Homo sapiens: one gene and its partners. The protein of the gene in region 1 purifies or fractionates together with the protein of each later gene. This does not show direct contact. Each region holds a gene or a part of one and is shown in the gene's direction. Other genes may lie near its edges. The genes, in order: PTPRN, ADPGK, CYB5D2, TBC1D15, DNAAF5, SGSM2 and METRN.

The links.
Region 2: the proteins of PTPRN (region 1) and ADPGK purify together in Homo sapiens (affinity purification with mass spectrometry; 2 studies listed by BioGRID and IntAct, with this or other methods). This does not show direct contact.
Region 3: the proteins of PTPRN (region 1) and CYB5D2 purify together in Homo sapiens (affinity purification with mass spectrometry; 2 studies listed by BioGRID and IntAct, with this or other methods). This does not show direct contact.
Region 4: the proteins of PTPRN (region 1) and TBC1D15 purify together in Homo sapiens (affinity purification with mass spectrometry, with the first as the bait; one large-scale study listed by BioGRID). This does not show direct contact.
Region 5: the proteins of PTPRN (region 1) and DNAAF5 purify together in Homo sapiens (affinity purification with mass spectrometry, with the first as the bait; one large-scale study listed by BioGRID). This does not show direct contact.
Region 6: the proteins of PTPRN (region 1) and SGSM2 purify together in Homo sapiens (affinity purification with mass spectrometry; 2 studies listed by BioGRID and IntAct, with this or other methods). This does not show direct contact.
Region 7: the proteins of PTPRN (region 1) and METRN purify together in Homo sapiens (affinity purification with mass spectrometry; one large-scale study listed by BioGRID and IntAct). This does not show direct contact.

What each region holds. Positions count from the first base shown.
Region 1 is NC_000002.12:219,289,123-219,292,401, reverse strand, and holds the end of PTPRN (receptor-type tyrosine-protein phosphatase-like N isoform 1 precursor), read left to right. Parts: intron 1-878; coding exon 879-932; intron 933-1,511; coding exon 1,512-1,576; intron 1,577-1,790; coding exon 1,791-1,864; intron 1,865-2,104; coding exon 2,105-2,176; 3' UTR 2,177-2,779; downstream 2,780-3,279. UniProt on the Homo sapiens protein: Plays a role in vesicle-mediated secretory processes. Required for normal accumulation of secretory vesicles in hippocampus, pituitary and pancreatic islets.
Region 2 is NC_000015.10:72,766,759-72,770,258, reverse strand, and holds part of ADPGK (ADP-dependent glucokinase isoform 4 precursor), read left to right. Parts: intron 1-3,500. UniProt on the Homo sapiens protein: Catalyzes the phosphorylation of D-glucose to D-glucose 6-phosphate using ADP as the phosphate donor. GDP and CDP can replace ADP, but with reduced efficiency.
Region 3 is NC_000017.11:4,149,697-4,153,196, forward strand, and holds part of CYB5D2 (neuferricin isoform 1 precursor), read left to right. Parts: intron 1-194; coding exon 195-335; intron 336-3,500. UniProt on the Homo sapiens protein: Heme-binding protein which promotes neuronal but not astrocyte differentiation.
Region 4 is NC_000012.12:71,916,259-71,919,758, forward strand, and holds part of TBC1D15 (TBC1 domain family member 15), read left to right. Parts: intron 1-1,439; coding exon 1,440-1,539; intron 1,540-2,192; coding exon 2,193-2,290; intron 2,291-3,500. UniProt on the Homo sapiens protein: Acts as a GTPase activating protein for RAB7A. Does not act on RAB4, RAB5 or RAB6.
Region 5 is NC_000007.14:750,699-754,198, forward strand, and holds part of DNAAF5 (dynein axonemal assembly factor 5), read left to right. Parts: intron 1-3,500. UniProt on the Homo sapiens protein: Cytoplasmic protein involved in the delivery of the dynein machinery to the motile cilium.
Region 6 is NC_000017.11:2,344,001-2,347,500, forward strand, and holds part of SGSM2 (small G protein signaling modulator 2), read left to right. Parts: intron 1-522; coding exon of another isoform or gene 523-660; intron 661-3,500.
Region 7 is NC_000016.10:713,682-717,917, forward strand, and holds the start of METRN (meteorin precursor), read left to right. Parts: upstream 1-1,436; 5' UTR 1,437-1,608; coding exon 1,609-1,712; intron 1,713-1,902; coding exon 1,903-2,303; intron 2,304-3,251; coding exon 3,252-3,311; intron 3,312-3,389; coding exon 3,390-3,706; 3' UTR 3,707-4,236. UniProt on the Homo sapiens protein: Involved in both glial cell differentiation and axonal network formation during neurogenesis. Promotes astrocyte differentiation and transforms cerebellar astrocytes into radial glia.

The sequences.
Region 1 (3,279 bases):
AGGAGTATGCAGGTGACTCCCAAAGCAGAAAGGTCATAAAGGACAAGGGCAGGTTAGATGGGTCCATTGAGAGACGGAGAAGCCCCCTGCTCCTCACTGAGTTGTGGTCAGGGGCAGTGGAGAAAGGTCTGAGGTCCAAGGGGACCCCAAGTCTGAATATAACGCAGCCACAGAATGCCTGTGCTGAAGTGAGACTGCTCCAGGGAGACAAGCAGTAGCACAATGTCCCGAGTTGAGGGGTTGGGGTTGTCCTCCCCTGGCCCAGGGAACACTATGCCCAGGGCAGCCTGATGTCACAACTGGTAAGGACCACTGGAGCCTGAGTCGGGAGGAAAACAGCCTGGGTGGTCATAAAGAATGGCAGAGGGCCAGAGCAGGGATGTGGCAAGACTGACACCCTTGAAGTCACCAGAAAGCTATCCCCTTGGACTTGGGCAGAAGTGTCTCTTAATATGATGATGTATTATCATTAATAGTTGCCACCTGCTACCATGTATTGAGCACCTATTGTGTGCCAGACCTAGCACTTAGCTCTTTACATGGGTTATCTCATGTGATCATTGTAAGAACCCTAAGGAGGTTTTTCTTACTATCCTCCATTTTACAGGTAAGAAAACTGAGGCTCAAAGAGGTTAAATCAGTTGTTCCAGGTGCATAGCTTGGGCACCTAGCTTGCAAGTGACAAGGCGAGCCCAATGCCACCCACACCAGCTCTGGTTCTTTGCCTCCAGCCCTGGCTCCTTTCTCCAACCATCTTCCCTCTCTGCCCCGGGCAGGTGGGGAGAAAAGGAAGAAAGAGAGGCCCACGTCATGTGTTTCAGCTTCCCTTTCCCTCTCTGCTGGTGCCCACTGGCCCTCACACCCATTTCTTGTTGCAGGAAGGTGAACAAGTGCTACCGGGGCCGCTCCTGCCCCATCATCGTGCACTGCAGGTGGGTGGAGAGGAGATTCATCTCTCTGGTCCCACTCCCTGTGTGCGTCTCCTGTGCACATTGCCTGCCTGTCCCCTTGGTGCTAGCAAACTGCAGGCATAGTCCAAATCCAGCACACCACCTGTTTTTAATGGCCAAGACCTAAGCGTGGCATTCACAGTTTTAAATGGGTGAAGAAAAAAGAAGAAAAGTATGTGATACAAACTGTATGTGGCCCACAAAGTTGAAAATATTGACCATTGGCCCCCTATACACAAAAAGCTGGCTGAAGGCTAGAGAGGCCCATCCAATTCCCTCCTGCTGCCTCTGCTTCTGGGCTGAGCCATGGCTCTCCTCTTTGGTTGTCCCATTGCCCAAATGACACCCACAGGTCACAGACTCCCCTCTCAAGGCCCAAGTCCCAGCGTGCAGGTGCTATGAGCTTTCCTTCATCCTCGGCTCACTGTCCCTCTCCAAGCCAACCCCAACGGGTCACCCAGTGTCCTCCCCTCCCCCAGGCCTCCAGGCCTCCTCGCCTCCTCCGTCCCTCCCCCTTTCTGCTGCATCTCAAGCTAAACCTGTCACTAACTCCTGTTTCAGTGATGGTGCGGGGAGGACCGGCACCTACATCCTCATCGACATGGTCCTGAACCGCATGGCAAAAGGTAGGGAGCTTCCCCACGGTGCCCGCAGCCCCCAGGCCCTTTTTAGAGGCTCCCCAGCACACAGGGTCCTGGGAGCTCAGAAGGAGCAGGTTGTCAACCTCCAGGCTCTGCCCAGCCCTCCAAGGCTCTTTGCCTCCAGGAGGCCTCAGGTTTTCTGGGTCCTGTCCTCCTCTGGACACCCCCTGAGCAGCCCCATCCCCACCTCCATCTCCAGGAGTGAAGGAGATTGACATCGCTGCCACCCTGGAGCATGTCCGTGACCAGCGGCCTGGCCTTGTCCGCTCTAAGGTGACCATGCCTTCCTGCCCCAACCCCAGCTCCCACCCTTCCCTAGCACCCACTTCTTGGCCACCCCAGGGAAAGCAGCAGCTGCCAACCTTTCCCACCTGCTTCTGCGCCTCCTCCAGGAGGGCTCCCTTCCTCCCAGGGGACCTGCCCAGGGCCCTCCCCCCACCAAAAGCCCCCCATCTTGAGGGCAGAGCACAGGTCAGCCCTCTCCATGACCATCCTACCACTGCCCTTCCTCAGGACCAGTTTGAATTTGCCCTGACAGCCGTGGCGGAGGAAGTGAATGCCATCCTCAAGGCCCTGCCCCAGTGAGACCCTGGGGCCCCTTGGCGGGCAGCCCAGCCTCTGTCCCTCTTTGCCTGTGTGAGCATCTCTGTGTACCCACTCCTCACTGCCCCACCAGCCACCTCTTGGGCATGCTCAGCCCTTCCTAGAAGAGTCAGGAAGGGAAAGCCAGAAGGGGCACGCCTGCCCAGCCTCGCATGCCAGAGCCTGGGGCATCCCAGAGCCCAGGGCATCCCATGGGGGTGCTGCAGCCAGGAGGAGAGGAAAGGACATGGGTAGCAATTCTACCCAGAGCCTTCTCCTGCCTACATTCCCTGGCCTGGCTCTCCTGTAGCTCTCCTGGGGTTCTGGGAGTTCCCTGAACATCTGTGTGTGTCCCCCTATGCTCCAGTATGGAAGAATGGGGTGGAGGGTCGCCACACCCGGCTCCCCCTGCTTCTCAGCCCCGGGCCTGCCTCTGACTCACACTTGGGCGCTCTGCCCTCCCTGGCCTCACGCCCAGCCTCCTCCCACCACCCTCCCACCATGCGCTGCTCAACCTCTCTCCTTCTGGCGCAAGAGAACATTTCTAGAAAAAACTACTTTTGTACCAGTGTGAATAAAGTTAGTGTGTTGTCTGTGCAGCTGCAACCCAGACTCCTACGCATTTCTGTCCGCTGTGCATCTGGACTCCAGCCCCAGCCTCAGCCCGGAGCCGGTCCCTGCTGGTCTCTCAGGAGGTGCAGAGAGCACAGCAGGAGAGCGCCAGCTGCCAGTAAGGCCCTTCTAGGTGGGAACACTACGTTAGAACGAGGCTTCCTATGCAGCCAGCAGTCTCCAAGGTGCTTTACATGATGAGTCCCATTTTACAGATGGAAAGACTGAGGCACAGAACTTGCTTGTGGTAACACGTAACACAACTTGTAAGATTGTAAGGTGCAATGGCTCATGCCTGTAATCCCAGCTCTTTGGGAGGCTGAGGCAGGCAGATCACCTGATGTCAGGAGTTGGAGACCAGCCTGGCCAACATGGAGAAATCCCGTCTTTACTAAAAATACAAAATTAGCCGGCCATGGTGGCTCGCGCCTGTAATCCCAGCACTTTGGGTGGCTGAGGCAGGCATATCACCTGAGGTCAGGAGTTCGAGACCA
Region 2 (3,500 bases), on another chromosome or scaffold:
AAGCATTCTGTTACTCAATCCTCACAACAGTCTTATGATTTCAAAGACAGAGGTCTAGAGAGGCTAAGTAAGGTGCCCAGGGGCACCTGGCTAGTAAATGATAGAGTCAGGATTCAAGTGTCAGGCTCTGCCTTTACTTCACCCTGTATGCACTCTCAAAGAGACTCAGTTTAACTTTCTGAAATGCTTCTCAACATGGACTGAGAGATCATCTGAGAACTACAGAGATTAAGAACTAGGTATTTTCCAGAGGTGGTAATTATAGCTGGCACTTCCTTCTATAGTTTTTTACCATATACCAGGCACTGTTTTAAGTTTTAGGTGCTTTAAATGTGTATGAACCAATTTAAATCTTCATAGGGCCCTATAAGGGAAGTCTTTTTATTATCCCCATTTTGCAGATAGGAAAAATGAGGCATGGAGAAGTTAAAACTGGTGAAAATCACATACCTGATAATGAGTAGAGTGGGAATTGAACCCAAGTAGTCAAGCTTCAGAATCCATTCTCCTAATAGCCATGCTATATTGCATCTTTGAAATAGACGCTGGTGAATATAGTAAAGGCAGGTTTAGTGGAATGATAGAATAGAAGCCAAATTTCAGGAGAGGAACCGTGCCTTTAAAAAATATACTTGTGTAATCCCAGCACTTTGGGAGGCCGAGGCAGGCGGATTACCTGAGGTCAGGAGTTCAAGACCAGCCTGGCCAACATGGTGAAACCCTGTCTTAGCTAAAAATACAAAGAATTAGCTGGGCATGGTGGCAGGCGCTTGTAGTCCCAACTACTCAGGAGGCTGAGGCAGGAGAATCGCTCGAACCCGGGAGGCGGAGGTTGCAGTGAGCCGAGATTGCGCCACTGCACTCCAGCCTGGGCGACAGAGCAAGACTCCATCTCAAAAAAATATATACTTGTGGAATTAGGCAAGAATTAGGAATAGTTATTTTATTTTGTCAAATGCTTTTGTCAAATTCTGCATTTACTGAGGTTATTGTGTGGTTTTTTGTTTTTTAGTTTGATATATGGTAATTATATTGACTTTCACATATTAAACCAACCTTGCATCTCTAGGATAAAGCTTACTTTGTTCTGATGTATTCATTATCCTTTTCACATATTCAGTTTACTAAAATTGTGTTTAAAATTTTTACATCAATGCCCAAGAATAATATTGGTCTGTATTTTTCTTTTCTTGTAATGTCTGTGGTTTTGCTGTCAGGGCAATACTGGCCTTGTAGAATAAGTTGGAAAGTGTTTCCCCCTCTTCAATTTTTTTTTTTTTTTTGAGAGACAGGATCTGGCCTTGTCATCCAGGCTGGAGTGCAGTGGCATGATCTCGGCTCACTGCAACCTCTGCCTCCTGGGCTCAAGCCATCCTCCCACCTCAGCCGAGTTCCTGAGTATTTAGGATTGCAGACACGTCACCACAGCCAGCTAATTATTTTGTATTTTTTGTAGACTTGAGGTTTCACCATGTTGCCAGGCTAGTCTCAACTCCCGACCTCAAGCGATCCGCCTGCCTTAGCCTCCCAAAGTGCTGGGATTACAGGTGTGAGCCACCACACCTATCTTCTCTTCAATTTTTTTTTTTTCTTAAGATGGAGTCTCGCTCTGCCCAGACTGGAGTGCAGTGGTGGCGATCTCAGCTCACTGCAATGTCCGTCTCTCAGGTTCAAGTGATTCTCATGCCTCAGCCTCCCGAGTAGCTGGGACTACAGGTGTGTGCCACCATGCCCAGCTAATTTTTGTATTTTTTAGTAGAGAGGGAGTTTCACTGTGTTGGCCAGGCTGGTCTCCAACTTCTGATTGCAAGTAATCCACCTGCCTCAGCCTTCCATAGTGCTTGGATTCATCCAATACACCTGGCCCTTTCTTCAATTTTTAAAACAGAGTGAGTGTCGCATTGGTATTGTATCTTCCTTAAATGTTTATAGAATTTAAGCCTTCTAGTGAAGCCTTCTAGGCCCAGGGTTTTCTCTGTAGGAAGATTTTAAATAACTGATTTCTTTAATAGATATAGGGAAATCCAGATTTTCCTTTTTTTTTTTTAAATGAGCTTTAGTAGTTTGTATCTTTCAAGGAATTTGTTTCATCTAAGTTGTTGGATTTATTGGCATAAAGTTAATTATGGTATTCTATTATTCCTTTAAGATCTCTACAATTTGTAATGATGTTTTCCTTCTCATTCCTGATATTGGTCATTTGTATCTTCTTTTTTTTCCTGATCAGCTTGGCTAGAGGTTTATAAATTTTATTGCTCTTTTTAATAAGTAATTAGCTTTTGGTGAATTTATTTTTCTCTGTTTTTCTATTTTCATTGGATTTTGCTTGCTTCAGATTTGACTTGCTCTTTTTCTAGTTTCTTAAGGTGAGAAGCTACAATCATTGATTTGAGACCTTTCCTGTTTTCTCATATAGGGGTTTAGTGCTATAAATTTCCCCTTAAGTACTGCTTTAGCTGCATCCCAAAGATTTTGATGGATTATTTTTATTTTCATTCATTTCAAAATACTAATATCCCTTTGATTTATTGAGATGTGCCATTTAATAGCCCATTCATGGACTACTTAGAGGTATGTTATTTAGTTCCTAAATATTTGGGGATTTTCCAGATGTCTTTCTGTTACTGATTTCTATTTCAATTCCAGTATGGTCAGAAAATATGCTTTCTATGACCTGAATCCTACTAAGTTTTTGAGACCTTTTTCATGGTGCAGAATATTCTATCTTGGTGAGGTTCTGTGTGTACTTGAAAGCTTCAAGAATATACATAAGCCTTTCTGTTGTTGGGTCGAGTGTTCTGTAAATGTCAATTAGATGAAGTTGATTGATAGTGTTGTTCAAGTCTTCTATATTCTTATTGGTTTTTTTTTTTTTGTCTATTTGATCTGTCAGTTATTAAGAGGTATGTTGACGTCTCCAACTGTAATTTTGGATACTTGTCTATTTCCTTTATAGTTCTGTAACTTTTTGCTTTATGTATTTTGAAACTCTTATTAGGTACATAAATGTTTAGGATTGTTACATCCCTTTAATGAATTAATTCCTTTATCATTACTAGGGATAAATAAAATCATTTCATAATATTCTTTGCTCTGAAATCTATTTTGATTGAAATAGCCATTCCAGCTTTCATTTGATTAGTATTGGCATGGTATATCTTTTTCTGTCCTTGTGCTTTTAATCTATTTGCATCTTTTTACCTTAAAGTGTATTTTTTATAGACAGCGTATAGTTGGGGCTTGCTTTTTAATCCACTTTGACAATCTCTGCCTTTTAATCGGAGTGTTTAGACCATTTACATCTAATGTGATTATTGATATATCAGGTTAGGTTTAAATCTAACATCTTGCTATTTGTTTGCTGTTTGCCCCATCTCTATCTTTGTCCCTCTTTTTCTGTACTCTTTTGGATTATTTTCTATGATTTCATTTTATCTTCTCTGACTTTATTAGGTATAATTCTTTTTTTCTTAGTGGTTGCATTAGGGTTTATACTGTAC
Region 3 (3,500 bases), on another chromosome or scaffold:
GCTGAAGCAGGAGAATGGCTTGAAAGCGGAAGGCAGAGGTTGCAGTGAGCTGAAATCATGCCACTGCACTCCAGCCTGGGCAACAGAGTGCGACTCCGTCTCAAAAAAAAAAGAAAAAGAAAGAAAACAGATTCTTGAGTGGGGATGGTGTCAGTGGTTTACACCTGGGTCTGATGGAAACATCTCTGTTCCAGGCCGAGACGCATCCAGAGCTTTCGTGACCGGGGACTGTTCTGAAGCAGGCCTCGTGGATGACGTATCCGACCTGTCAGCCGCTGAGATGCTGACACTTCACAATTGGCTTTCATTCTATGAGAAGAATTATGTGTGTGTTGGTAAGTCGTCCATAGGTCATACATTTCATTTGGTTGTCTGCAGTGTTTTTAGGGGGCTGAGATTTTTTAGGGATTGGGTTCAAGCTTAAAATCTGAAAAACAGCCATGGATTTGTTTTACTTTAAATTCTGGTCGTTAGAATAGGGATGAGCCGCCCAGAAGGAGATGGATGGGCACCTGCTTCCCCCACTCTTAGTCTTGGGAGAGGATTACTAAGCTGCTTGCTTTGGCCTCAGTTTCGCCATAGCCAGTGGTTGCTTGCACCATCCTTGAACAACCAGCTCCAGAAGGGCAGCTTCCCTGTCTCACTGTGTTCGATGCATCTGGCTTCAGCACACAGCCAGAAGGGCTTGAAGCCTGAATTTGTGTTTCGACAAATCCCCTTTTATTTGGTCCTCTAGGAGGAGACAAACTTCGTGAGTGAGCTGTCTCCCAGGTGGTAGTTATGCTAATCAAACCACTGTGTAGGTTACTGCACTTGCTACTTACTGATGCTACATAAGGGACTTGCTTCTCAAATGAGACAACACCAAACTGTGTCCTAAAGCAGTGTTAAAGACTCTAAACACTAGGCCCGGCGCAGTGGCTCACGACTGTAATACCAGCACTTTGGGAGGCTGAGGCGGTTGGATCACTTGAGGTCAGGAGTTCAAGACCAGCCTGGCCAACATGGTGAAACCCTGTCTCTACTAAAAAATACAAAAATTACCTGGGCGTGGTGGCACGCACCTGTACTCCCAGCTACTCAGGAGGCTGAGGCAGGAGAATCGCTTCAGCCCGGGAGATGGAGGTTGCAGTGACCTGAGATTGCGCTACTGCACTCCAGCCTCAACGAAAGACACTAAACACTAGATTGCTTCACAAGTACTGACAACTGGGATGGCCGTAGCCCTTTCTTCTATCTATCTGCAGCCCCCACGTCTCACTGGAGTCCTACTTGGACATGACTGACTTCCTGAGGAACACCAGTATCACTTCACCATCGAAACAGGTCTAACTTGGAAGAATTCTTTCCTTAATGCCTCTGAATTTCTGCTTCTGTCATCACTGCTTGAGTTACCTTTTCTGAGAACCTTGGCATTTTTATTAACACCTCAGCTCCCTCCACATCCAATCAATCATGGCTTTTTCATAATATCTAAAGTTTGTGTCCATCCATTGTGGGCCTCTGCAGCACGCCTTTCTTCATTTTCTCTCGTATGCCCAAGATCAGTCTTGAGACCATAACCCTGTCTACCATCGAAGGCACTGACCTCTACTCACCTGCGCTTCAGAGGGCTGGGTTCTTCCCTTTCCCAATGAAGTTGCCAAACCAAGGTTGAAACATTACTGGGTTAATAAAGAAAAGAAAACCCAATAGAAAAGAATAAGAGCCAGGAGTGGTCTCTCACACCTGTAATCCTAACACTTTGGGAGGCCGAGGTGGGCGGATCACCACCTGAGGTCAGGAGTTCAAGACCAGCCTGGCCAACATGGTGAAACCCTGTCTCTATTAAAATACAAAAATTAGCCGGGCATGATGGCAGGTGCCTGTAATCCCAGCTACTCAGGAGGCTGAGACGGGAGAATTGCTTAAACCTGGAAGACGGAGGTTGCAGTGAGCCAAGATCGCACCACTACACTCCAGCCTGGGTGGCTGAGTGAGACTCTGTCTCAAAAAAAAAGAAAAAAAAGAAAAAGAATAAGAATGGAGTCCAGACCGGTGGCTCATGCCTGTAATCCCAGCACTTTGGGAGGCTGAGGTGGTCGGATCAGTTGAGGTCAGGAGTTCAAGACCAGCCTGACCAACATGGCAAAACCATGTCTCTACTATAAATACAAAAAATTAGCTGGGTGTGGTGGGACACACCTGTAATCCCAGCTACTCAGGAGGCTGAAGCATGAGAATCACTTGAACCTGGAAGGCAGAGGTTGCGATAAGCCGAGATCACATCACTGCATTCCAGCCTGGGCAACGGAGTGAGACCCTGTCTCAAAAAAAAAAAAAAAAGAACAGAGTCCTGTAAATGGGCAAAGAATGCCAGGCCAAATACTTCATACTAAGATTTGGGAGCACACTGGAAGTGTTCGGATGCGTTTGGTGTGACAAGTGAGCTGGTCTTGTTTGAATGATGTATAATGTGTTGAGGATGGGGTGGGGCATGTGGCGGGAAATGCCTCAGAAGGATTTTAGTTGATGTCAGGATCTTATTGAATACCTACTACTCATAAGTTACGGGTTCCATCCTCAGGGGGACCAGGGATGAATTGAGTCCAGTTCCTGCCCCTGTTAGCTCATTCTGTAGGATAGGGGCCATGTTAGGCTCTTTCAGGTTACCAGAAACCCTCAGGATACATCAGTGGATGAAGGTTTATTGTAAGGGTACATACTGAAGTGAGGACAGCCAGGAAGCCATCTTGGCAGCCAACATGGCCAGGCCTCAAGGGAAAACAAGATGGCCTTGGTTATGCTGTGGATACAGGATTGGCTTGGAGATGCAGCCACTGGTGATCACCATTCTCATGACACAGATTCTAGAACTCTTCCTCTGTTGCCTCTGCTACTACTGTCCTCTCTTTGGGTCTCATGTCAGAAACTCACCAAAGACAGGCTTGTCACCATATAACACAGACACCCCAACCCCCGTAGTGGGAAATTCTGTGCCAGGCCAACTCATAGACTGCAGGCCTGTGACTCGGGCCCTGATTCCTTTCTTTATTCATCTAATAAGTATTTAAAATGAATGCTCTATGCTAAGCTGTTTTATTTATTTATATATTTTTTCAGATGGAGTCTTGCTTTGTCACCCAGGCTGGAGTGCAGTGGCACGACTGCAGCTCACTGCAACCTCCAACTTCTAGGTTCAAGCAGTTCTCCTGCCTCAGCCTCCTGGGTAGCTGGGATTACAGGCATGCACCACCACGCCCAGCAAATTTTTGTATTTTTAGTAGAGACAGGGTTTCACCATGTTGGCCTGGCTGGTCTCGAACCCCTGACCTCAAGTGATCTGCCCGCCTCAGCCTCCCAAAGTGCTGGGATTACAGGTGTGAGCCGCTGCGCCTGGCGCTAAGCTGTTCTGAGTACTGCGCCTCACTAGTAGAGAGAGCCATCATAGACAAGTAAACAGATTGAACAACTCCACATAGGACCATGCATCAAACTGTGATGTAATACGTTTGGGAGCT
Region 4 (3,500 bases), on another chromosome or scaffold:
ACTTTTTCGAATATGGTGTCTGTCATTATGGACATGTTTCTTTTTTACAGCAGAGTGGGTAGCAAATGTCTATGCCATGTTGGTATTCCCAGATCAGCTCTAGTCTTTGACTGTGTCACAGCAAAAATGATCCTGTTAATCAGAGTTGATTCTGCCCCTTCTCTATAGATCTCTCTGGTAAATGTGGAGGAACTATATCCTAAAGCCTTGAGTTAGTCTATTAATAAACTGGTTTTTAAAATTCATTAAAGAGAAACAGCTTATTGAGAATTAATAGACTTAAATTTTTTTTAAGAATGAATTGTTTCTAATATGATAGTTCTAATAAAGCACTATTGTACTGTAAAAGTGAAAAAGTAAGTGTGAAGGAGGAAATGTTTTTCTAAGGCTTTCACTAGGGTTAGGGCGGTAGGTTACCACAGAGGGATCGGGACATATGAGTTAAAGGGATCCAAATCATTTAAGAAGCCTTTCAGAGCATCAGTTTTGGTGCCTTCTGGCCCCTTGACTCAGGTGTTGGTAGGGAGTCTACTCAACTATGAAGTTTCTTTAAAGCATATGAACCCCAGCAGTTCCCAAACTTTGTGACCTCAGGGCCCCTTCACACTCTCCAATATTATTGAAGACCTGAAAGAGTTTTTGTTTATGTGGGTTATATCTGTTGATGTTTATGTGAAAAATTAATACTGAGAAACTTGTATTCATTTATTTATTAATTCATTAAATAACAACACATTCTACCTTAACATAGATCACTTTTTTTTAATGAAAAGTAACCTTTCCTAATGAAAAATTTACCGACACAAGAGATTGTTTTAAATTTTTCATTTTTAAAAATGTCTGGTTTAATAGAAGACAGCTGAATTTTCATATTTGCTTCTGTGTTCAGTCTTTTGGAGTATCACACATCATACAGCCTTTGCACTTGTGAAAGAATTTAAGTATGAAATCCAGATAATGTTTTAGTATTGTCCTGAAAATGGTTTTGGCTTTACAGATTCTCCAATGTAAAGTAATTCTTTAAAATGAAATACATACTAAAACTAAAATTAATTTTATTATGTATAATTTGAAGGAATATTTAACAATGGAAAGAATTTGATAAATATTTATTTCCCAAATGTGTGTTTCTTTCACCAAGTCTTTTATGCTGTGTAAGAAATAAATAGTCAGTCTGCAGTTGCTATGTCTGCATTCTTCTTTATCTAAGTCAAATGAATAGAGGAAAAAATAATCCTTAGTTTTGAGAGCAAGGATTCTTTCTCTTTACCCTCCCTTTTAGTGTTACGTTAGATTTTTGGTTAGTTACGCATTTTTTAAGATTACCAGTGTGGTATAAGTTCAGCATTTGTCCTTAGACATCATGTTTTAGTTATCAGTCATTATGTACTATAAAATATTTATTAAATATTACTTGTAACAATTATTTCCTTTTAAAGCATCAGAATTTTGAAGAACAAATGCAAGGCATGAAGACCCAGCTAATTCAGCTGAGTACCTTACTTCGATTGTTAGACAGTGGATTTTGCAGTTACTTAGGTAAGTTTAGTGAATCAGAACTATACCCAGCAAATTGTAGAGTAATGCATAGAAAAAAATGTAAAGAACTCTTTAAAGAAGCCAGGTGCAGTGGCTCATGCCTATAATCCCAGCACTTTGGAAGCCAAGGAGGGAGGATTACTTGCACCCAGGAGTTTGAGACTAGCCTGGCTAGCACAGTGAGACCCCATCTCTACAAGGAAAAAAAAATGCTGGCTGTGGTGATGCATGCCTGTAGTCCCAGCCACTCAAGAGGCTGAGGTGGGAGGATTACTTGAGCCGAGGAGGTTGAGGCTACAGTGAACTGGGATCACTCCACTGCACTCCGACCTGGGTGACATAGCAAGACACTGTCTCAATAAAAAAGAACTTAAAGACATATATACTCTATTGCACTTTCTTCGGTTCCATAAAAATGTGGAACCAAACTCTCTTTGTATAATTCTGCCTTAAACTTGATTCGTAAAATGTATTATTTGTTAGTTTTTAAAAAGAAGTCAGCCTTCAAGTTTGAAATGATTCCTTAACGTAGAAGACAAATGTATAGGGCCTTGAATTGCCTAAGATGCATAGGAAAGTTAGAGAAAAGTAACTGTATTCTGACATAATTAGCATAAGAGTAAGTCATATGTGTGTTTTTTTCTTCTGCATAGAATCTCAGGACTCTGGATACCTTTATTTTTGCTTCAGGTGGCTTTTAATCAGATTCAAAAGGGAATTTAGTTTTCTAGATATTCTTCGATTATGGGAGGTAAGTCCTTAAATTATTATGCAAATGTGATATTTATTATGAAAAGAAACAATTTATTCTGTAGAGTGTAAATGAATTATGATAGCCTTACTGAAATATCTAAGGCAAGTATGTTCCAAAATTCTGATGAACTGGTAGCCTCTTCTTAAAAATTAGTTTCACACTGAATATTTGGTCTTTTGGAGCTTCGTTCTTCAAATCACAATCTCTGTGAGATTTGGGGCCAAGAGGTATCCCAGAACAAGTGCTCTAGACCATTTGCTGCCTTTGTTCTTCCTTTGTGAGACTTGACTTTATGTGAGGCTTTGCCACATCTGTTATAGAGGATATTCTTATGTTTTTGGTGTACTCCTTTTGTTCCATTTTTTACCCAAGGCAACTCTTTATTTTTTCAACTTTTATTTTAGGTTCAGGGAGTACATGTGCAGGTTTGTTACATAGGTAAATTGCATGTTGCTGAGGTTTGGTGTGTGAATGATTCCATCACCCAGGTAGTGAGCATAGTACCCAATAGGTAATTTTACATCCCATGTTTCCCTTACACCATCCCCCCATGTGTAATCCCCAGTGTTTATTTTTCCATGGCAACCTTTAATGAAAAACCAAATCATTTCACATTTTCTAAAGTATTTGCTAATAATAAATCAGTGTGCTTTTTTTTTTTTTTTTTTTAAAGAGAAGGGGTCTTGCTATGTTACCTAGACTGATCTCGAACTCCTGGACTCAAGTAATCCTCTTGCCTCAGCTTTATAAGTAGCTGGGACTACAGGTCTACAGGTGTATGCCACTGTGTCCAGCCCAGTGTGCTTGTTCATAGAATGCTGGTATAATGATTGATCATACCTTAGGATAACAGAAATTCTTCCAAGGAAAGAATTGGGAGATAATCCATTTTGATTGTAAATCCAACTTTATACAGTGGAACTCTAGTGGTCTCTGAGGTTTTTACAGCTGGAAATGGATTCCTATACTATTGATGGCTGTGCTACCATTAGACAAGGCATTGTGCTGATTACAAGTTAAAAGTGGATTACTTTATGCTCACTTCCTCTGTTCTCAGATTAGAAGTAAAACCCACATGGTCTCTATCTGGAATCGTACTTAAATGTTTATCAGTTTTGTTAAATTAGTGTCTTAATTTGGGGGTTAAAAATGGGTTAATGTATTTATGCCTAGTGTTCCATTATTGGAACGCTAAGCATGTGGGAGT
Region 5 (3,500 bases), on another chromosome or scaffold:
AAACCAGTCCCAGCCTGTGTCCAGGCCTTGCGTACCCCTGCCCAGCACCGGCCAGTATTTCTTTGGAAACACCCAGAAGCCCAGGTGCCCACAAAGCTCTGTTCAGCTGTCAGCAGACCCCTCCCCGGCTGTTCCTGGTCACGCATCTCTCATTTTGCAAACTTTCCAGAGCGGATCGTCATCAGGAAGAAAGGTGCAGCTGGGCGTGGTGGCGCATGCCTGTAATACTGAGGTCAAGAGTTCAAGACCAGGCTGGCCAACATGGTGAAACCCCATCTCTACTAAAAATACAAAACTTAGCCAGGTGTGGTGGCATGCACCTGTAGTACCAGCTACTCAGGAGGCTGAGACATGAGAATGGAGAATTGCCTGAACTCAGGAGGTGAAGGTTGCAGTGAGCTGAGATCGCACCATTGCACTCCAGCCTGGATGACAGAGCGAGACTGCATTTCAAAAAAAAACGAAGAGAGGTGTGTTTGCACCCTGGCTTTTTTGTTTTTTACAAAATGATGACAGGATCATTTAAACAGCCAGCAGAATTTTAATTATTTGGAACTAATTCCATAATACAGGATAAAAACAGAAAAATAACCAGAAAAAGGTTAAAAATGGGGTGTCCTGGTACAAGCTGTTCTTATTAAAACATACCCTTTAGCCTGGATGCAGTGGCTCACACCTGTAATCTTAGCACTTTGAGAGGCCGAGGCAGGAGGGTTACTTAAGCCCAGAAGGTCAGTGCTGCAGTGAGCTGTGATCGTACCACTGCACTCCAGCCTGGGTGACAGAGTGAGACCCTTTCTCTAAAAATAGAAAAAGACCCTTTAAATCCTGACATATCATGGTTTCATTTCTATCTTTACAGTTGTTCTGAATTTTTTTTTTTTTTTTTTTTTGAGATGGAGTCTCACTCTGTCGCCCAGGCTGGAGTGCAGTGGTGTAATCTTGGCTCACTGCAACCCCCACCTCCTGGGTTCAAGTGATTCTGCTGCCTCAGCCTCTGAGTAGCTGGGATTACAGGCGCTCGCCAGCACGACCGGCTTATTTTTTCTATTTTTAGTAGAGACGGGGTTTCACCATGTTAGTCAGGGTGGTCTTGAACTCCTGACCTCAGGTGACCCGCCTGCCTTGGCCTCGCAAAGTGCTGGGATTACAGGCATGAGCCACCGTGCCCGGCCTGAATTTTGAAGATCAGAATCTTTTCATCAAAGTCCCTGAAGGCTTTTCTGTAGAAATCGACAAACTGATTGTGAAATTCTCGTGGGCGTGCAAAGGACCCACAGCTGCCGAAACACTGGGGAGGAGTGAAGCTGAATGGCAGCAGGTCCTGGGTGCAAGACTCACAAAACCACAGTCATGGGGCCACGTGGTGTTGGCTTTCAGACCGATGAGCAGAACGAGAGCGTCCAGAAACAGGCGCCCGCACGCGGACCACTGACTTGATGAAGGCTCAAAGACCATTTAATGGCATCTTTTAATAAGGATACTGTAAATGATAGGATCACTCATACACCAGAAAGTGAACTTGGAGTCAAAAAATTAACCCCAGATGCGTCAGGGATCTGAAGGTAAAGCCCAGAACCGCAGAGCTAGGGCGAAGCCTTTGTGACAGTGGGCCGGGCCACACTTCGTGGGATACGTCCTCAAAAGACCGCAGAGTGATGACGAAGCCTTTGTCACCGCGGGCCGGGCCACGCTTCCCTGGGTGCATCCTCAAAAGACTGCAGAGTGACGACGAAGCCTTCGTGACCACGGGCCGGGCCACACTTCGCGGGATACGTCCTCAAAAGACCACAGAGTGATGACGAAGCCTTTGTCACCGCGGGCCGGGCCACGCTTCCCTGGGTGCATCCTCAAAAGACTGCAGAGTGACGACGAAGCCTTCGTGACCGCGGGCCAGGCCACGCTTCCCTGGGTGCATCCTCAAAAGACCGCAGAGCTAGGACGAAGGCTTCGTGACCGTGGGCCGGGCCACGCTTCCCTGGGTGCGTCCTCAAAAGACCGCTCTGTAACAGGGTAAAGCAATGTGTGGACTTCATCAAAATGAACACTTCTGCTTTTTCAAAGGCCTGTTGAAAAAACGAAAAGACAAACCAAAGACTGAGATGTTTGGAGATGATGTATGTAAGGATTTATCTCCAGAGTATAGGAAGAGCTCTTGAAACTCAGCAGGAAAACAATCCATTTTTTTAAATGGGCAGAAAACAATTTGGAAAGACCCTTTACCAGGGAAGATAGGCGGCAAACAAGCCTGTGAAGAAGACGCTCGGCGTCGTTAGTCATCGGGGAATGCAAAGGAAAAGCACACGGAAATGCCACTGTGCCTCTCGGACTGCTTTCAATTCAAGACTGAGCGTACCGCGTGCCGCTGAGAGTGGGAAGGAGCGCGGACTGGCTCAAACACTTTGGAAAATGGTTGGACAGTTTCTAAAACAGTTAAACGTGCACCTTCCCTGTGGCCCAGCCCTTCCACAGCTGGTATTTGTCCCGGCACAGTGAAAGCCCAGGCCACACAGACTTGCCCTGGACACCATTTGAATGCTTCTCCACAGAGGAGCGGGCACTAAACTGGCATCTCCCCAGAACAGGCCACTTCCCAGGTTCAGAAAGGAGCGGGCACAGGCGGGCCTCAGAAAACGATGCAGAGTGAAAGAAGCGGAGAAGGGAGGAGAGTGAACGAGAGGCTTCCACTTGTGTCAGGCTCTAGAAAGTGCAGCTCAGTCACGGGACAGATCCAGGGGTGCCGGGGTGCCTTGGGGGCTGCAGTGCAGAGGAGCAGAGGAAGCCGGGCGAAGGACGCAGCTGTCACCCCCACCATGCCGATGGCTTCGCAGCCGTGTCTCTCATATGGCGATGGCTTCGAAGGCATGTCTCTCTGATCATATGGGGACGGCTTCACAGACGTGTCTCTCATCATATGGGGACGGCTTCACAGGCGTATCTCTGTCATCATATGGCGATGGCTTCGCAGGCTTGTCTCTCTGATCATATGGGGACGGCTTCGCAGGCGTGTCTCTCTCATATGGGGACGGCTTCGCAGGCGTGTCTCTCTGATCATATGGCGACGGCTTCGCAGGCGTGTCTCTCTCATCATATGGCGATGGCTTCGCAGGCGTGTCTCTCTCATCATATGGGGATGGCTTCGCAGGCGTGTCTCTCTGATCATATGGCGACGGCTTCGCAGGCGTCTCTCTCTCATCATATGGCGATGGCTTCGCAGGCGTGTGTCTCTCTGATCATATGGGGACGGCTTCGCAGGCGTGTCTCTCTCATCATATGGCGATGGCTTCGCAGGCGTGTGTCTCTCTGATCATAGGGGGACGGCTTCGCAGGCGTGTCTCTCATCATATGGCGATGGCTTCGCAGGCGTGTGTCTCTCTGATCATAGGGGGACGGCTTCGCAGGCGTGTCTCTCTGATCATACACGTCAGCACGTGTGGCAAGTGTGTTGTTTGCATCTCTGTGTGGCTCTAAATGTTTGTTTTTTGAGACAGGGTCTCGCT
Region 6 (3,500 bases), on another chromosome or scaffold:
GACTGATTTTGATTTTGACTTCAGGGAGGGGTTTGTGCTTTTCGGATGCTCTGTGCCACTTTCCCTTTGTTTCCCACCCGTGTTGCTCCATGATCCTAACCCCAAGCCCTTGACTGGATGCAAAGGAGCCTGAGCGTGGGCTAGGAGAGGTGGCTAAGGCTTCCAGCCTCAGAAGGGACTCTCTCATCACCTCCTTCTCAGTGTGGCCAAGCCTTCCAGCCCCAGAAAGGAGAGAGTCGCTTATAAACCATTTCCGCCTCCTCAGCCTGAAGACTTTTGCTTTGTAGGAGCAAGCCTATCCCTACGCACAGACTCTTCTTGGATTTCTAGGAATTTCAGCTTCCTCTCAACCCCCCATCTGAAGGGACAGGGAACCATTCACCTTCTCTGTGTTGTATTCCTTGGCCTCTGAGATTGGTGTTGGGGTTTGTGGAGGGAAAATAATGAAAGAACAGATAAGGGAAGGGATGCTTTGGACGGTAGTGTGGCACAGCAGATACAGCTGCCCTTCCCCTCATCCAGCAGCAGATCCCCACCAAGGGCTCACCAGGTGCCAGACACCGTTCACCGTGCAAGGAAATGGCAGTGACAAGATGGACAGAGTCTCTGCCGCAGGAGCTTACATTCTGTTGGGGAGACAGACAGGAAACAAATGCGCAAGTAAATATGTCATCCAATAACTTGGCATGTGATAAGAGCTAGGAAGAAAAAACATGTGGGAGGGCAGTCGGAGAGGCAGCCTCTGAGCAGAGTCTGAGTGACAGACTGGGGTTTGAATCCTGGCGTCCTGCCTTTTAAGTCGTCTTGGACAAGTTTCTTAACTTCTCTCACCCTCAGTTTGCTCCTCTAAAAACAGACTGATGATTCCCACCTCAAGGAACTTTCGTGGGGATTGAGATGATGTGTGTAAATGTTCATTCGTTCGTAGCATTGTAAGCACTCAAAGAATATTCGTCTCTCCTCCTTTGGCTGTTGAGGCTGAAGGTAGGTTTGTAGGACTTGAGTTCATACCATGTCCGTTTGGGAAGGTTTCCCCAGTTCTTTGAGATGGTGGAATAATGATTCCTAGGTTTACAAGACACAGCCTGACCTCAGTTTTTCTCAGCAGAACCTATGCTCTGGAAAAAAAAAAGGCATGCCAGTATTATGATAAGCAACTTTGAAGAGTATTAGAATTCTCGGCCGGGCACAGTGGCTCACGCCTGTAATCCCAGCACTTTGGGAGGTGAGGCAGGTGGATCACCTGAGGTCAGGAGTTCGAGACCAGCCTGGCCAACTTGGTGAAACCCCGTCTCTACTAAAAATACAAAAATTAGCAGGGCGTGGTGGCGGGCGCCTGTAATCCCAGCACTTTGGGAGGTGGAGGTGGGCGGATCACGAGGTCAGGAGATCGAGACCATCCTGGCTAACACGGTGAAACCCCGTCTCTACTAAAAATACAAAAAATTAGCCAGGCGTGGTGGCGGGCGCCTGTAGTCCCAGCTACTCAGGAGGCTGAGGCAGGAGAATGGCGTGAACCCGGGAGGCGGAGCTTGCAGTGAGCCAAGATCGCGCCACTGCACTCCAGCCTGGGTGACAGAGCGAGACTCTGTCTCAAAAAAAAAAAAAAAAAAAAATTCCTACTTTTTAAATACTGACAGCTAATTCCCATTTAAAAAAAAATTGTGTGGGCCACACAAAAGACATCTGCCAGCCTCTGCCAGTGTGCAGCCTCTGTTTTGGGTTCGGTACAGTCACGGAGAACAGGAGCAGGAGAGGTTCCAACAGTATCGGGCTAAGTCAGGCCAGGGTATCTCAGGGCCTACAGACAGAGAAATCCTTATGCTTTGTCAAAATTGGTGCTCAGTGGTGAGCTAAATCCCAATTTGGGCTGAAACTGAGGCTCGTTGAAAGCATTGATTATCAACCTTTTTCCTCTGCCTGCAAAGCAGCTTCCTTGCATTGCATGGTGGAATCACGAGAGACTCTTGCGGGGGACGGGGAGGGAAGACTAGCAAGGTATGGATCAAAAACACCACCCCTCTCTGCCTTTTTGGAGATTCTGATGTGCCAGTCTCCCTCAGTCCCTGGAAAAATGCTCTGAAATGCATTTTTAGTCTGAAGTTGATCCAGACTTAAACTGTGCCTTGCTACTGTCCTAGCCACGTCCGAATTCAGCTTTGTTGTGGGAGAAATGGGAGTATAGAGAACGTGCTGAGAGGTCAAGAGCAGAGTGAAGTCTGTGGAGACTGGATTACCAGCCTAGCGACACCACGGTCCCTAGTTTCAAGGGACCCTTGTGTACTGGGCCCCTCAACTCCACACCGACCCATGGTTCTTGGCAGAGGAGGGTTGGGGGTGACTGAGGAGAGCCAGGCCTAGGCAATACAAGCTTCTCTGAGCTTCTTAGAATGCAGACATTTAAACAGAAAACACAGAGCCTTCCTGGAGAGCCTTCCTGAAGAATCACTGTGTCAAGACCTGACCATGGGCAAACCCAGGAAAGTTTGCAGCCAGATCCCCATTCCTGTTACCCAACGGGAGGGGCAAGACTCCTAGGACTGGCTAGAAAATTGCTTTGTTGAGTGTTTGCTGTGGTTGTTCCTAAACCTGTCTGTCCAGAAGCTGGACATGCAGTAGGCCCCTGCGAGTAGAAACTTTCCTTGTGTGGAAGTTTTCGCTGGCAAACCAGTCTGGCGGCAGCAGGGGGGTGGGTGGGGTTCTCTGTGTGCTGTTCCCAGGCCCGAGGATCAGAACCTATGTAACTGCCACCTCCGTGCCAGTGGAGGGTGGCGCTAGGAGAATGGACTCAAAACTACCACTATGGGGCCAGGCATGGTGACTCACACCTGCAATCCCAGTGCTCTGGGAGGCTGAGGCGGGAGGATCCCTTGAGACCAGAAGCTTGAGACCAGCCTGGGCAATATTACAGGATGCAGTCTCTACAAAAAAATAAATAACTCGCTGGGCATGGTGGTGCACGCCTGTAGTCCCAGCTACTCCAGAGGCTGAGGTAGGAGGATCACTTGAGCCCGGGAGGTTGAGGCTGCAGTGAGCTATGATTGCACCACTGCCCTCCAGCTTGGGCAACAGAGAGAGAGAGAGACCCTGTCTCGTTTGTTTGTTTATTTATTTATTTATTTAGAGACGGAGTCTCACTCTGCTGCCCAGGCTGGAGTTCTGTGGTGCTATCTCAGCTCACTGCAACCTCCGCCTCTCAGGTTCAAGCAATTCTCCTGCCTCAGCCTCCTGAGTAGCTGGGATTACAGGTGCCTGCCACCACACCTAGCTAATTTTTGTATTTTTAGTAGAGACAGGGGTTTCACCATGTTGGCCAGGCTGGTCTCGAACTCCTGACCTCAGGTGATCTGCCCACCTTGGCCTCCCAAAGTGCTGGGATTACAGGTGTGAACCATCACACCCGGCCTCATTTTTTTTTTTTTTTTTTAAACAAAATCCAAAAACTACCACTGTTGGGGAGAGGTCTTTGATATATCCTTTTATCCTTTTTATCTTAAAAC
Region 7 (4,236 bases), on another chromosome or scaffold:
ACTCAGCTGCAGACAGGCCTTTGGGAGTCTTCCACCTTTTGGGGATTGTGATGGCTACTTCTGACCTGCACCTCGCCCAGAGCAAGGGGCTGGCCGAGCCCAGTAGGCGCCTTGTTCCTGTTTGGCCTGGGAGGGCCCTGGGGTTGAGGGAGGGCCTGGTCAGTGGGATCCAGCCTCCCACTGCCACTGAGCCATCTGGCCTCATCTGTCCGACTGCCACTGGTGAACTCATCTGTCCACCATGAGTTTCGAGCGCCGGGTGGCAGGAGGTTTGGGGGCAGGGGACGGAATGTTCACATCTTCAGGCTGCACAGTCTATGCTGGTCCTTGCAGTCCCCGGCTAAAGCTTCTGTCGTCCGTAAGGGGTTCAGTATGTAGTGGGACCCCTTTGCTTGTGCCTTAGGCCTTCTGTGATCTGACCTGTCGTCCCCACCCACCACCCATGCCCTGGGGTTTCACTGGGCTGCCAAGAGCTCCTTCCTCAGGCCCTTGACCCAGGCTGTCTGCTCTCCCCCATTCTCTTCCTGTCCACCTGGCCAGCCACTGCCCACTTCCTCCCATCAGGCCAACTCAGCAGTCCCGGATGCTGGGAATCCCACACTGCTCCAGCCTGAGGCTACAGTGTGTTTGCGAATCGCCTGTTTCTGCTTGTTTCATCTTGGTGGGGGCTGCTCCTGTGGCCCAGGGGTGTCCTCCCAGCTCCTGTGTCTCCACGTGCTGCAGGCCTGCAGGGGTGCCCGTGGCTGCTCCATTCACGCCCCTCCAGGAGCCCCGTCTGGCCCGGGGTCGGTCATCCGGCAACTATGGGGTGCCGCTAGGTCTGAGGAAAGGGGCCTAAGCCTGCGGGCTGCGCGCTCTTCAGCAGGACCCCCTCCTGCAGACGGCCTTACCAAAACCCGAGGCCTGGCCCCGCTCCAAGGCGCAGCCCCCAGGCCAGGCCTTCCCCGCCTCTGGAGTCATGACCCCTCTCCTCTGGGGCTCCACCGGCCTCTGGTCAGCAGGACCGGACCTGGTTGGGAGGGATGTGGCCAACAGGCCCAGGTCCCAGTGTTAGGAAGGAGCAGGCCCGGCCGCCCGCGAGGCGGAACCACCAGGTGGGCCACCTTCCCTACCGCCACCCCGAGGTTCCAGTGGACATCAAAACCTCGGCTCCATCAGAGGCTCCAGGACTCCGATCGGGACAGCGCGGGGGGCGAGGCCAGGGTGAGGGCGCGGCGAAGGAGAGACGCACAGCGCGGGGCGGGCAAGGAGCCTCCCTTCCGCGCCAAGGCCCCCCCCAACCCTCGAGGCGCTTGGACCGTGGGATAGTCCTCCGGCGGCGCCCGAGCTCCGGCCCCGCCCCCGCTCCGCCCCGCGCCTGCTATTGGCGGAAAGTTCCGGGCCGCGCCGCGACTGGCCGACACGCCGCAGGCCCCGCCCCCTTCCCGACCCGCTCCAAGGCGGCCCCGGCGCTGGGGCTGCGCGGCAGGCGGAGCGGCCGCGGGCTTGGGGGCTTCGCCGGGGCCGGGCGGCCGGCGCCCCCGGCTGCTCCCGCCGCCGCCCGGACCCGCGCCCCGCCGGGGCAGCGGTGGTGAGAGCCCCGACTCCCCGGACGCCGCCCGCCGTGCCATGGGGTTCCCGGCCGCGGCGCTGCTCTGCGCGCTGTGCTGCGGCCTCCTGGCCCCGGCTGCCCGCGCCGGCTACTCCGAGGAGCGCTGCAGCTGGAGGGGCAGGTACGGTCCGGGGGGCTGTCCCCGCACTTAGGACGGGGTGCGCTGCGGCTAGGACCCCCCAGGCGCCCCTCGGAGCGCGCAGAGCGCTGGGCCGGTTTCCCCATCCGCGAGGCGGCCTCGGGAGGGAGCGGGGGCTGCGCCGGGCGGGGACCCGCCCCCGTCTCAGCGCCCCGTCCCGTCCTGTCCCCAGCGGCCTCACCCAGGAGCCCGGCAGCGTGGGGCAGCTGGCCCTGGCCTGTGCGGAGGGCGCGGTTGAGTGGCTGTACCCGGCTGGGGCGCTGCGCCTGACCCTGGGCGGCCCCGATCCCAGAGCGCGGCCCGGCATCGCCTGTCTGCGGCCGGTGCGGCCCTTCGCGGGCGCCCAGGTCTTCGCGGAGCGCGCAGGGGGCGCCCTGGAGCTGCTGCTGGCCGAGGGCCCGGGCCCGGCAGGGGGCCGCTGCGTGCGCTGGGGTCCCCGCGAGCGCCGGGCCCTCTTCCTGCAGGCCACGCCGCACCAGGACATCAGCCGCCGCGTGGCCGCCTTCCGCTTTGAGCTGCGCGAGGACGGGCGCCCCGAGCTGCCCCCGCAGGCCCACGGTCTCGGCGTAGACGGTGAGTGGCGGTCTGGTTGGGACAGGGTGGGAGTCCCGAAGTCTTACCCTGCCTGGGCTTGGCGGGAATGTGCCTTGTCGGCCCCACTGCAGAAGGAAAAAGTGAGCTACAAGGGTTGGATGGGCTTGTCAGGCCACACAGCCTGGGACTGCTGGGGAGGGATGGCCTCCCCGCCCTCCCTTCCCGATTCATCTCTGGAAAGAGCTGGCAGGGGCAGAGTGGAGGGAAGGGGAGGCCGGGCCCAGCAATCCTGGGCCTCTGGTCCCTGAACGGTTGGGGGAAGAGATGGTGGGGACAGAATCGAAGCCTCCGGCCAAAGCTGTCCGGGGCTCCCTGGCCCAGCGGTGACCTCTCTCCCCTCCCCCAGCCCAACCAACAAAAGTCCAGTGTGCAGCCCGGTCACCATGGAGACGCCGCTCGCCTCCCTGCAGGGCACCAGGCCCAGCTCTTGCTTGGCTCTCCTGGAGCTTGGCGCCTGACCCTGAAAGGGATGGGCTCTCGCTATTCTGCCCCCTGGCCCTGGGCCAGGGACCCCAGACCACCCTTCCTCTGCCCCCACTTCCTATCACCCTAGCTGGGCTGCTGCTCTTCAGACCTCAGATCCGGGAAACTAGAGGGGTCCCAGATGCTGGGGTGCATATGTCAGATGGGAGTGCAGGAGGGCGGCCCAGGACAGCTGATCGCTAGGCATGGCCCCCAGGCCCACGTCTGTGTGCATTCCTGCCTTGGAGGTACGCGCCTGCAAGTGTGTTTCCTGAGTACAGGTGTCGCCGAGGGCGTGCACATCTGCTGTGTAGCTCTCTGGGACCCCCAGGTGCCATCAGGCCCTGAGCGTGGGCTCTGCTCATTTGCCTGCTGCCTCCTGCCGCTTGTGCGGACAAGGGACGGGGCCTGGGGTGATGCCGGGAGAGGGCAGGGCCTCTCCTCACCACCCCCTCTGCATGCCAGGTGCCTGCAGGCCCTGCAGCGACGCTGAGCTGCTCCTGGCCGCATGCACCAGCGACTTCGGTGAGTGTCCCCGCCATGGGGGGAGCCTGGAGCCTGCCTTCCCCTGAATGCCTACCGCAGCCACATGCCTCCCCACAGTAATTCACGGGATCATCCATGGGGTCACCCATGACGTGGAGCTGCAGGAGTCTGTCATCACTGTGGTGGCCGCCCGTGTCCTCCGCCAGACACCGCCGCTGTTCCAGGCGGGGCGATCCGGGGACCAGGGGCTGACCTCCATTCGTACCCCACTGCGCTGTGGCGTCCACCCGGGCCCAGGCACCTTCCTCTTCATGGGCTGGAGCCGCTTTGGGGAGGCCCGGCTGGGCTGTGCCCCACGATTCCAGGAGTTCCGCCGTGCCTACGAGGCTGCCCGTGCTGCCCACCTCCACCCCTGCGAGGTGGCGCTGCACTGAGGGGCTGGGTGCTGGGGAGGGGCTGGTAGGAGGGAGGGTGGGCCCACTGCTTTGGAGGTGATGGGACTATCAATAAGAACTCTGTTCACGCAAGCTGCTGTGGACCTGGTCTCCTGTGTCCAGCCCAGCCTTGGGCCTGCCTCGCAGCTGTGAGGATGGCTCCAATTCCTGCCTCCTGGCGGGAGACTGAGGCTCAGGGGAATGGTATCTTGTTCAAGACCATTTGGCAACTGAGAGGGAGAGCAGATGTCAGGAGGAGCTACACCCACATTCCGGGGAGGGGCCGCTGCTGGGTGGGGGGCACGTGGGGACCTGCACTCATGCAAGCTTCTGCTCTGCTGCACCCACCAGCCCCGTCCTTGCCCGCACCCTTGCCTGCTTCCCTGGCTGGCTCCCACTTGCCTCCCGTGCCAGGTGCTTCTGGGGCTCAGCAGGAGAGGAAAGGGGCAGAGGGGCATAGGGTCCCTCGGGTACGGTGGGGGCAGGCGGGCGCACAGCGCTCCGGCTCTGAGCCAGGCCTGTGAGGGAAG